Regions from separate parts of the Homo sapiens genome. Here region 1 is linked to region 2. A link means that fine-mapping ties the variant in region 2 to the expression of a gene that starts in the linked region. Tissue or cell type: testis. Region 2 holds a variant in brackets; the other region holds the start of a gene. All regions are shown on one strand. Distances are between the middles of the regions.

Region 1 (5,000 bases), 43 kb before region 2:
TTCAAGATCTAATGAGTTATGGGTAGAGTGGGTGTATTTTGAAGAGGATTCAAGAGATGAAGAAAGATAAATGCAAAGGGCTAAAGCCCTAACTATGGAATCTCACAACTTATAAATTATCACACATCACTAGATGGTTACTTCTCTGAAAAAAACCAGCTATTGTTTTTTTTAAATCTTAAATATTTAACTTTATTTTTCTGCCTACAGATGGGATTCAAATTGAAAAGCACACAGTAGAAAATACAAACTACCTATATTTCTGATTAATATTGTTTGTATACATGTATCATGTATAAAAGTGATAGCACTGTTCGTTCTGCATTTTTCCCCTTTAACTAAACACATTATGAATTGTTCTACAGTGGAATTTTAAATAATTACATGGTATTCCATTATGGATGTTCCATAATCATCCAATCACTTGTTTTTAAACACGTAAATTGTTTCTAAGATTTTCCTTATTAGAAACAATAGCAAGAAAAATATCCATCACTAAAACTTTACAAACATGTATTATTATATCTTAGAATAAATTCCTAAAAGGTGAATTGCTTGGTTAAAGGGCATATACATTTTAAAGGCTTTTGATATGTATCACTAGATTATTGTCCAGAAAGATGATATCACCACTAGTGCGCAACTAGGGTACAAATAATCCTCCCTTCTTAGCAAGATAGAGGGTTCTTGATTGCTTGCTTTTTAAAACTTAATATTTATCTCTTTGATAGAGAAAAAATGATACTTCACTGTTGTTTTAATTTGTATTTATTTCATCTCTTATGAGAACAGACATTGTTTAATGGCTATTACTGGTTCATGACCAATCTTCAGGCACTGTGAAACAAAAGGAATCTTAACAAGTTCAATATAGACAGCAGCCTATGGTTTTTTAGACCTCTGCAGACAGTGCTAGCATAATTAAGTAGTATCCCCTCTATGGTACCACAAAAATTATAAATTTTGAAATTCTTTTTTTCTTCATACAAGTATAACGCTTCAAAATTCCACTGGAGCAAAAGGAATCTTTACTGGAAAATTAAATTTTAATCTTCTGAAATAAAAGCAACAAAGCTTTTTCTCAAACCAGTAAGCACTGGGTAGATGAAAGTTACTTCGATTTTCAAAGAACAGTAATTATAAATACATAGTGACGGCCGGGTGCGCGGTGGCTCACGCCTGTAATCCCAGCACTTTGGGAGGCCGAGGTGGCCAGATCACAAGGTCAAGAGATCGAGACCATCCTGGCCAACATGGTGGACCCCGTCTCTACCAAAAATACAAAAATTAGCCGGGCGTGGTGGTGGGCGCCTGTAGTCCCAGCTACTCAGGAGACTGAGGAAGGAGAATCGTTTGAATCCGAGAGGCGGAGGTTGCAGTGAGCTGAGATTGCGCCACTGCACTCCAGCTTGGCGACAGAGCGAGACTCTGTTTCAAAAATAAATAATTAAAAATAAATAAATACATAGTGACTGGCGCCAGCTGCCACCACCCAAGAGAAGGGCGGGTGTGACTCCTTCCAGGAAGTCTCCACAGCATGGAGAAACCTTCTGGCGCACCACGAAGCGGGCAGGAAAGATTTTAGCTCTACCCCTTATGAATAGTGTGAACTTGGGCAAGTTTTTTAAGCCACAGTTACCCCATCTGTCAAAAAGAATGATGATGTCTTTCCAAAAGTCATTGTGAAGAATAAAATTCAATGAAATAGCACTAGTAAAGTACCCAGCACATCATGCATGTTCAATACATGGTAACTAATTTAATCACTCTACCTCCTTCCACTACCCAACCCTGCCCAGAATCTCCCATGGCCTGATTATGACATATTAACTGAGTTTTGCATTTTCTCCTTATACCTCTTTTTTCTCTTTCTTTTTCTTGATCTCTCTCCCTCTACCTTCTCTATCTCATTCCTCCACCCTCAGACCAAACTGACCCTGGTAGACAAAAAACATATTCCCTGTTATTTGTCATTCTTATGCAGATATTTTAAAAATTCCTGATTCTTCACTAAAATCAATGACTGTAACATTCAGTATTTGAATAACAGATTTACAAAACCAAAATTAGGCACCTAAAAATATATATAACTACCACCAATGAACTGCTTTGGGCATTGCAAATAATTCTTGCCTTTATGTGCCAAAGATCTTTTGTAGAAAAAGAAAGCTTCTCCACTTAGGAACTAAGTGAAGGACACACATCAAAGCACCATCTTCAACCTCAGCCTTTCACTGCAGTCACAACTCATAACTTCTCTGCAAAGAATAAGAATTATTACTCACCACTGGGGATCCATTTTGGCTGCTTCTGCTGTGACCTAATATCTGGAAATGACCCCACTCATCCGTGTGTCTGTGCTAGTCCCTGTTACAGCAGCAGAGAAGCAAAGCTTTCACCCTGTGCAAGCCTTCCTCGGCAATGACTGTATACCTACCCAGCTAACTTTCTTTAAGAGAAGCTGTTCCTCTTTTCTCTACAGATTTTGACCACACTTGAGGAAGAAATTTAACCCTTTCCTTGCAGTTTAAACTCATTGACGTAGGTCTATATGTATTAAAGAATATATAATTCAGTAGCTTGAGTTCCAGACATGACGTTAAGATGAGCCTGAATAAAAAATCTCCCCTCTTGAAATTCCCTCAAAAAACCTAGAAAATAAAATAATTAGAAAGAGAAAACAAACCTCCGCAGCAACAAAATAGAATAAAGAGGCATTCTACAGATTTTGATAAGATAATAAAAAGTGATTTATTGTGGATGTGGATTGGGAGTGAGTAGCCACCTAACCCTGCCAATTTCCACAACCAAAGTGTGGAGAGTTTCACTGAGCTGGGGTGGGGGGATGGGAGATGGGGAGATGTTCTGTAAGGACTGCATAACCAAGGAGGGCAGACAGAAGCTACTGCTTTTATTATTTCATTCCTACTATAGCCAAGGATTACATTGATGAAAGCGAATATTCTGAAACAGAAGTCTGAAAAAAAGGCAGCATTATAAAATTAATAGATGTCCCTAAGAGACAAACATAGAATTAATCAAGCAGAAACTATACTAGAAGATATTTCCTCGTATGAATTAAAATGGGCATCATCTAGAAACTCAAACTGTTTAGTGTATCAAAGCAAAAGTTATGAAAATCGATTCTCATCCAGACAAATCATTTTGAACATTTTAAATTCCAAAGGCAAAGCTAAAAACAAAATGAAAACAGAATGACTACAGAGAAACAAAAAACAACTTGGCATCTTACTCAACCCTAAATGGCAAAAAACAACAGAACAATATCTGCAGAATTTTGAATTAGCATTATCTACCTAGATAAGATGCCAGTTAAGTGTCAAGTCAATAGAAATATGTCACCAAGCAGGCAAGAAAACAACAACTGCAACAGAAATACCACCACCAAGACAGCCTTCCTAAATAAATTATTTAAGGATATATTCCAGAATAATAAATGAATTAAAATAGCCTTAAAATGGAGAAGCCATGGCTGAAAACACCAGTGCTGAGCTTTAAAGCAAGTTAAACATGGAGAAATAAGGCTAAATAATTATAAATTAGTTTAGACCAAAATGCTAAATAAGAAAAACTTATTAGAAGTAGATTACATATATTATTTCAAGGAAGTTTAAAAATAGCAGATGACATCACTGCTAACTAGAGCAAGGAAGCAAAATCAACACAATTATTAATCTTCAAATAAGAAGATAGAACAATGATTATTTTATCAACTTTGATAATTTCATCTGGATTTGAGAATTTTAAAAAATGAAGACAGCAATAATATAAGTTATCTATCTTCAAAATTATTGCAGAGCAGGAGTGCAAATAAAATAGTATTTATAACTACATAACACATCAGAAATAAGATGAGATAAAAAAATCCATGTAAACCTCATTTGTTATAAATATTAAATATTAAAGGTATGGGATGTCATTTTTCAGTTTCTTGGTAGCAGTGTACACACTCAAATTTCCATTTCTTGGTATCAATGCATACACTCAAATTTTTATTTAAGATAGCATAAGCATTTTCTCCTGTTATCATAAACTTTTTAGTAGTCATTAAATAGTACATTAATAGTACATCAAGTATACACTGTGAAAGCTGGCTGTAATGGCACATACCTGTAATCCTGGCTACTCAGGAGGCTGAGGTGGGAAGATTGCTTGAACCCAGGAGTTTGAGAACATCTTGGGCAACATAATGAGACCTTGTCTCATACACACAAAAAAGGTATATATTGTAGTAAAATTATCTTCCTAATATCAGACAGTTTTAGCTTTTAGTATTTTTATATTACAATTTTCTAATTAATATATTTAGTATATACATTTAGGAGTTTTTAGTATTTATTAGTTATCCATTGCTGTATAACAAATTATCTCAAAATTTATTTCCTTAAAACAATAAATGTTTAGGGATTGATATCCAGAATATATGATTAAAAAAACTCCTACAACTTTGCAGAAGAAACAACAAACAATTAAAAAGTAGGCAAAAGAGTTGAACAGACATTTCTTCAAGGAAGATATAGAAATGGCCAATATCACATGAAAATGTGCTCAAAACCACTAGTCATTAGGGAAATGCAAATCAAAACCACAGTGAACGTCAGCAAGATGGCAGAATGAGAAACCCCAGCCTGTGCTCCCTCCCAGAGAGACACTAACTTAACTATACACAGACCAATTCCTTTTGTGAGAAATCCAGAAGCTGGCTAAGAGGCTACATCACACTAGGTGAGCAAAAAAAACAACTGCACTGAAGCCAGTAGGAAAATTCACGGTATACCCTCACCATAGTCTGTCCTCTCGGCACAGGGCCACATGGTTAGGAGGAAATTCCCAGTTTTTGGCTTCTCCCTGAAGAAGAAATGAGAAGACTAGACCATATATCCAAAGTTCTGACTTTTTGGCCGGGCGCGGTGGCTCATGCCTGTAATCCCAGCACTTTGGGAGGCCAAGGCAGGCGGATCACTTGAGGTCAGGAGTTT
Region 2 (5,267 bases):
TTGAGATATATATTCTACTGGAATAAAAGAACGCATGTGAAGACGTACTTATATAATCATATTCATTTCAGTAATTAATGCCAGCATTGCTTATAATACTTAAAAGTCAGAAACAACCTAAATGTCCATAATTTGGAAAATGTGTAAATAAAAGTGGCTCATTGATGGAGTGAAATGTTCATGCAGTTACTAAAAAAAAATAGATCTGCATATACTGATATACAATATATCATTAGTTTGAAGAAAAAGTCACAAATCAATGTACATAATATGATTAATTTAAAAAAAACAACATAGGAAAAGATGTGAAGGGATGTAGACCAAATTGTCAACAGCAGTACCTCTGGAAAGTGGAATTCATGGTGAGCAAGGAGGAACTTTTTACTTGATACCCCCTCCACTGTTTGAAGTTTCTCACTTATTTATTTTGTATTAACAAACAAAAAGGAAGAAGAGCTTCTGTACAAAATGATTAAAATAAATTTGTGAATGTCCCTTAAGTGCGTGAATATTCCTCAAAGGGTTAAATCTCAACCATTTAGAAAACTTATCCAGAAGACATGGTAGTGTAGTGGAGGTCTAAGCTTAAATCCAGCTTTGCTACTTTCTAGCTGTGTGGCCTTAAGCAGATTACTTAATCTCTCAGAATTTTCCTCATCAATGAAATTGAGAGAAAGTAAAGCTTATCTCATCAGTTTCTTGCAAAGGTTAAATGAGATAATGTATAATAAAACACCCAATACCGTGTCAAACAACATAGTAAGTGCTCAGCACATAGCACTTTCCTTCTCGGGGTGCTGCACTGTTAAGTGTTGCATGCCAGACCTTGGGTAAACACACAGTACCTAGACATCATTCCGCTCCCCACCCATCTGCTTTCCTGGTCTCCTCTCTCTGCTCTCCCTATCCTTTCCTTCTTGTTCGTGACCACTCCCTCTTGTCTTTGTCTCTTCTTGTCCATAGCTAGTCACTTCTTGTCTTGCTCCTTCTTGTTCATAGCTAGTCCCTCTTCTCCTTGATTCCGCTCATATTTGCACTGTTATCTGAGGAAATGTAACAGGCACTGATGGTAAATATGCTTGGTGAGATAGCCTGCTCAGCCATAAACTCTGATAGCATTGAACCTGTGTGCATTTTGTTAACCTGCCACATGGAGTCAGGGTGCTTGTATACCTGAAAAACACTCAGGAATCAATTCCTGTCAGTCCCAGGCCACTGCCCCTTGCCGGCAAAGACCTGCCTTCACCCTCCTGCCTACCATCCCTTCCAAGCAGGCCTGTTCATAGGAAAGGAGGGGAAGTGCCATCTAGTCCTTCAAAATAGTTCTTAATTTTAAAAATATTTTAAAATATATACCTGTATTCCTATACTGTGTGAGTATCTTCTACAAACTAAAACTCCTTCTTGCCAAATCTAATACTACACAGGAAATGAGGAATAAAAAAATGTGCAAAGATGTGCATGTATTTAGGAACAGATGACATTTAGTTGTAAAGATACTCTGCCCTGGTTGGTGTGTTTCCTTCTGTTTTAGTGTAGGATGGTAGTCCCCACTCAGCACAGCAGCCTGGCCTTGGAAAGTACCTGATGGCGGGAATCAGAGAATCCCCTTCCCCTTCTCTCCTTCCCATGAGCTCTGATATCTCATCTGAAGTTTCCTTTCTACCCATGTGACAGGTCTCCTTCCCTTCTTTCACAGAGCCTGGCAAGCTGTGAATGAGTCCACCAGGGTACAAAGCTATGAAACTTTTGAAGCTTTTGAGGCACCAACTCATTTTGCAAAGAGAAGACAATCATGATAGTTTACATTTGTATCATTTTTTCAAAATGCTTTTACATGCTAGTCTCAGTGGATCTGGAACTCCTGAAGTAGTCAAGATAAGTACAAATGATACAAATGATAGCTTAGGTTTGTTGAATGTCTATATGTGCCAGGCTCTTTGCTAAATGGGGGACATTTTTTTATGCTCACCACAACCCTCTGAGGCAGGTATTATCTTCATCTCAGTTTTGCATACAAAGGAAAACAATAGTTTGGAAATAACTTGCTAGGTCAACTTCTGACTCTAACCAAATTCCCTTTTCTGACCCCCAGCAACTAATGTTGACTAGAGTGTTTAATAAACTGCTGTTTATATTACATTACCATTCAGCTGTTAGGGATTGGAGACAGAATCTGAACTCAGGGAGTCAGGTTC[T/G]AGAATTAACATTTTTGAGAGAAAATGATAGAGACAGCTAGGAAATGAGGAGTCAATGAACTGGGGAGGAGAAAATTCCACAGGATAAAGGAATTTTAAGAATAGAAAAAAAATTAAGAATTTGAAAACTTGTAGTAAGCCTGAAAGAGCAAAGTTGCAACCAGGATGACTACAATCAGGACGTTTCTCTTTTTTGATCCTGTTCACATTTTCAGCCTGATTTGCTGCTTTGGGTCCTTTCTTGAAAACTCCACCTGCTTAGTTCTGTGCATGCCCAGTGTGGTTAGGTTTACAGAGAAGTTAGAGGATATAGGAAAAGAAAGTGGGTGATTTTTGCCTTTGAGATGGACTGTCTTGCTACTGCCTTTCCTTCCCAATCTGGAAAATCTGACTGCTTTTTAAGAGCCTGGCGCCTGACTTCTACTTTGGAAGATCAAGCTTGCTTGCTTGGGAAAAATTGGGATTTGTTGTCAGCAAGGCCCAAGCTCAAATCCTGATGCTGACACTTTTTAGGTATGTGATGTTGGACACGTGGGGGTGTGGCTTATACTCTGAGCTGAACTTCTGCCCACCTATATGAGCAGGGCTGTTGCCTAGCTGAGGGGGTTTGTGAGATTTAGAGACCAAGAATGTACATCACCCGGTGCATAATAGATGCTAAGGACCCACAGCAACAACTGAGATATGGGAGAAGAGTTTGCTGGGTTGTTCAGTACCTCTTCTCCTGGGACTCTTCCCGTGTGTGTGTGTGTGTGTGAAAGAGAGAGAGAGAGAGAGAGAAAGAGAGACAGGGCAGGGGGTGGACGTTTGAGGTCTGCACAGGATGCTGTGGGGCTGGCTGGCAGACCCCTGGAGAGAGTGTGAATGAGCTCAAGATGGCCAGAACTTGTTGAACCTGGCAGATATCAAGGCTTGATATTCACACAGGGATGAAATAGAAGAGAAGATAAAAGAGTACCCAAGCAGCAAAGTCAGTGCTGACGTTGGTAAAGGTGAGTTTTGTCACCCCAAATGTGGTTTGTCCACAATAAGGGCATTCATGGAAGGGGAGCTGAGTGATCACCTTTCTCCCCATTTCCCCTCCTCAAGGGTGTCAGATTCTGCAATCTTCAAAGCTACCCCACAGCAATTTCTGACTCTAACCAAATTCCTTTTTCTGACCCCCAGCAAACCTGGTCTCCCTGCTCCCAAATGCGCTACCTCTATACAGGTGATATTGACTAGAGTGTTGATTAAACTGCTATTTATATCAAATTACATTCAGCCAAATAAGGAGCCTACATGTTCTTTATTTTACTGTGTCAGAGTGACTGCACCAGTTATATTTTAATTATTGCTCACATAGCCTGGCCCCCAGCTCAAATTATTTGCAAACTTGTGAATACCAATTATCTTTTATTTAAAGAATAGCCAAGCTGAGAGGCAGGAGCACTGCTCAGGGACAGAATCTCGACTCTGACCCCCTTAGAAAAAACGAATGACCACAGACAAGTCCCTTAAATTTCCAAGCCTCAGATTTGTTGTACAGGAAGTGAGCACAGCTAATCTTCTCCCAGGTATCACATTTAGTATATAAAAGAATATATTTGAAGATGCTGTTGAACCTAAGATTTTATTTAGACCAATATCAGTGTTTTCCTCTCTCTTCTCATCGGTATGTGTGTTATGGAACAAAATAAGCCAGTGTTGACAATGGCAACCTATTCATTGTGAAAATCTTATCTGTGGCTGCTTCTACTATTCAGATAAAACTGTGGTTGGTGAGATCTCCAAGGTCTATTTCAGGTCAGTTCTGGAAGAAAAGAAACAAACAAACAAAAAACAAAAAACACACAAAGGGGTAGTCACAGAGAAAGAACAAGAACCAAAAATTAGATTAAGAAAGCCATGTTAGGCTTGAGATGCTGGTCACCGGCCCTTCCATTCTAATTGGCCTGATTTCTGGGACTCTACAGCTTACGGAGACAGCAGCTTTTTTTCCCAAAACCACTCAAGGTTTATTTTTAAAATGATATATATTTTTTTTTCATTTACAGCTGAGTGGGGAAGTCATCTATCTTCCTAAAAACACCACTTTCACTGTATTACTGTTCTTCAGAAAAGACTTCAGTGATGATCCATGGACAAGAAATTGAACTGGATTGTGATTTAGACTTCACCCCATCGCCCCACCTCCCACTCACCACCACCAGCCCCGCCTTATTTATCTTCTCTGTTTTCCATAAAGCTGGAGACACAGCTAGATTGGTTTCCCCCAGGTTACCCAAGTAACTGCCCCTTCCTAATAAGGCTCTTTGCTCCCTCCTTTCTTGCTTACTGAAACAATGAGTTTCTCTGCCTTCTTCCTACTTCTCATGCGTGATCTTAGTTCTACCTGCTTCTTGGAGCCTAGGTTAAATCATTTCCTTTCATGAAGTCTTCCTGCCCACAGCTCTCGCCTGCACTGCCGCAGAGTCTCTATCCAGCACATCTGCCATGGGGCATCTGCATCACAGCCCAGTCCTGGAGATAGGTGGTCAGGTCATTTCTGTGAGTGCCTGTCCTGAGCAGCATTCTGCTGTCTGTCTATGGATGTGAGAAACCCAGATGCAGGTGCCTATCAGAAGTTTAAGGGGACAGTCTTACAAGGGCTGTGACCAGTAGGTCAGGCAGGACCCAAGAATCATGTGCTCTAGCGTTCAAGACAGGCCCACCTAGCTGCTCCGTAGGATAATAACTACATTTGTTTTGTTTGTGGGAGTACCTTGGTCAAAATGAAGGTGGCTCCGTTTGAAAACTCTGTTGGAGAAAACCCCAACTCCAACCTCTTTCTCCTTGGCCCTCGTAATAAGGGGAAAAAAAGGAAGAGACTCACATACTGACACTAATGTGGCAGTGTATGTGCAAGGCTTCATGCCAAGGACAGTAGATTATCTCATTGCATTCTTGCAAGGACCTGATAAGGCTAGCACTATCATCATCTTCATTCATGGCTGAGAAACTAGCTCAGAGAGAGAGTAAATAACTTGTCCAAAATTCAAGTAAATATTAAAGTTTAATTTGAACCCAGCTGTATCTGAATCTAAAGCC

What was found. PIP is the estimated chance that this variant, and not a neighbour inherited with it, causes the effect.
Region 1: it holds the start of CD86, and the variant in region 2 is fine-mapped to the expression of CD86 in testis (GTEx, PIP 0.98).

What each region holds. Positions count from the first base shown.
Region 1 is chr3:122,052,789-122,057,788 of GRCh38, reverse strand. It overlaps CD86 (CD86 molecule), which reads right to left and starts at 2,427. Exons shown (of 7, transcript NM_175862.5): 1 at 2,286-2,427. The coding sequence starts at 2,299. It also overlaps a transcript of ILDR1 not described here.
Region 2 is chr3:122,009,366-122,014,632 of GRCh38, reverse strand. The region is part of intron 1 of ILDR1 (immunoglobulin like domain containing receptor 1); the gene reads left to right. Among named protein-coding and RNA genes, the nearest start is that of ILDR1, 10 kb to the left of the region's middle. RefSeq lists an enhancer at 1,739-1,788. The variant T/G (reference allele first, on the strand shown) is at 2,199.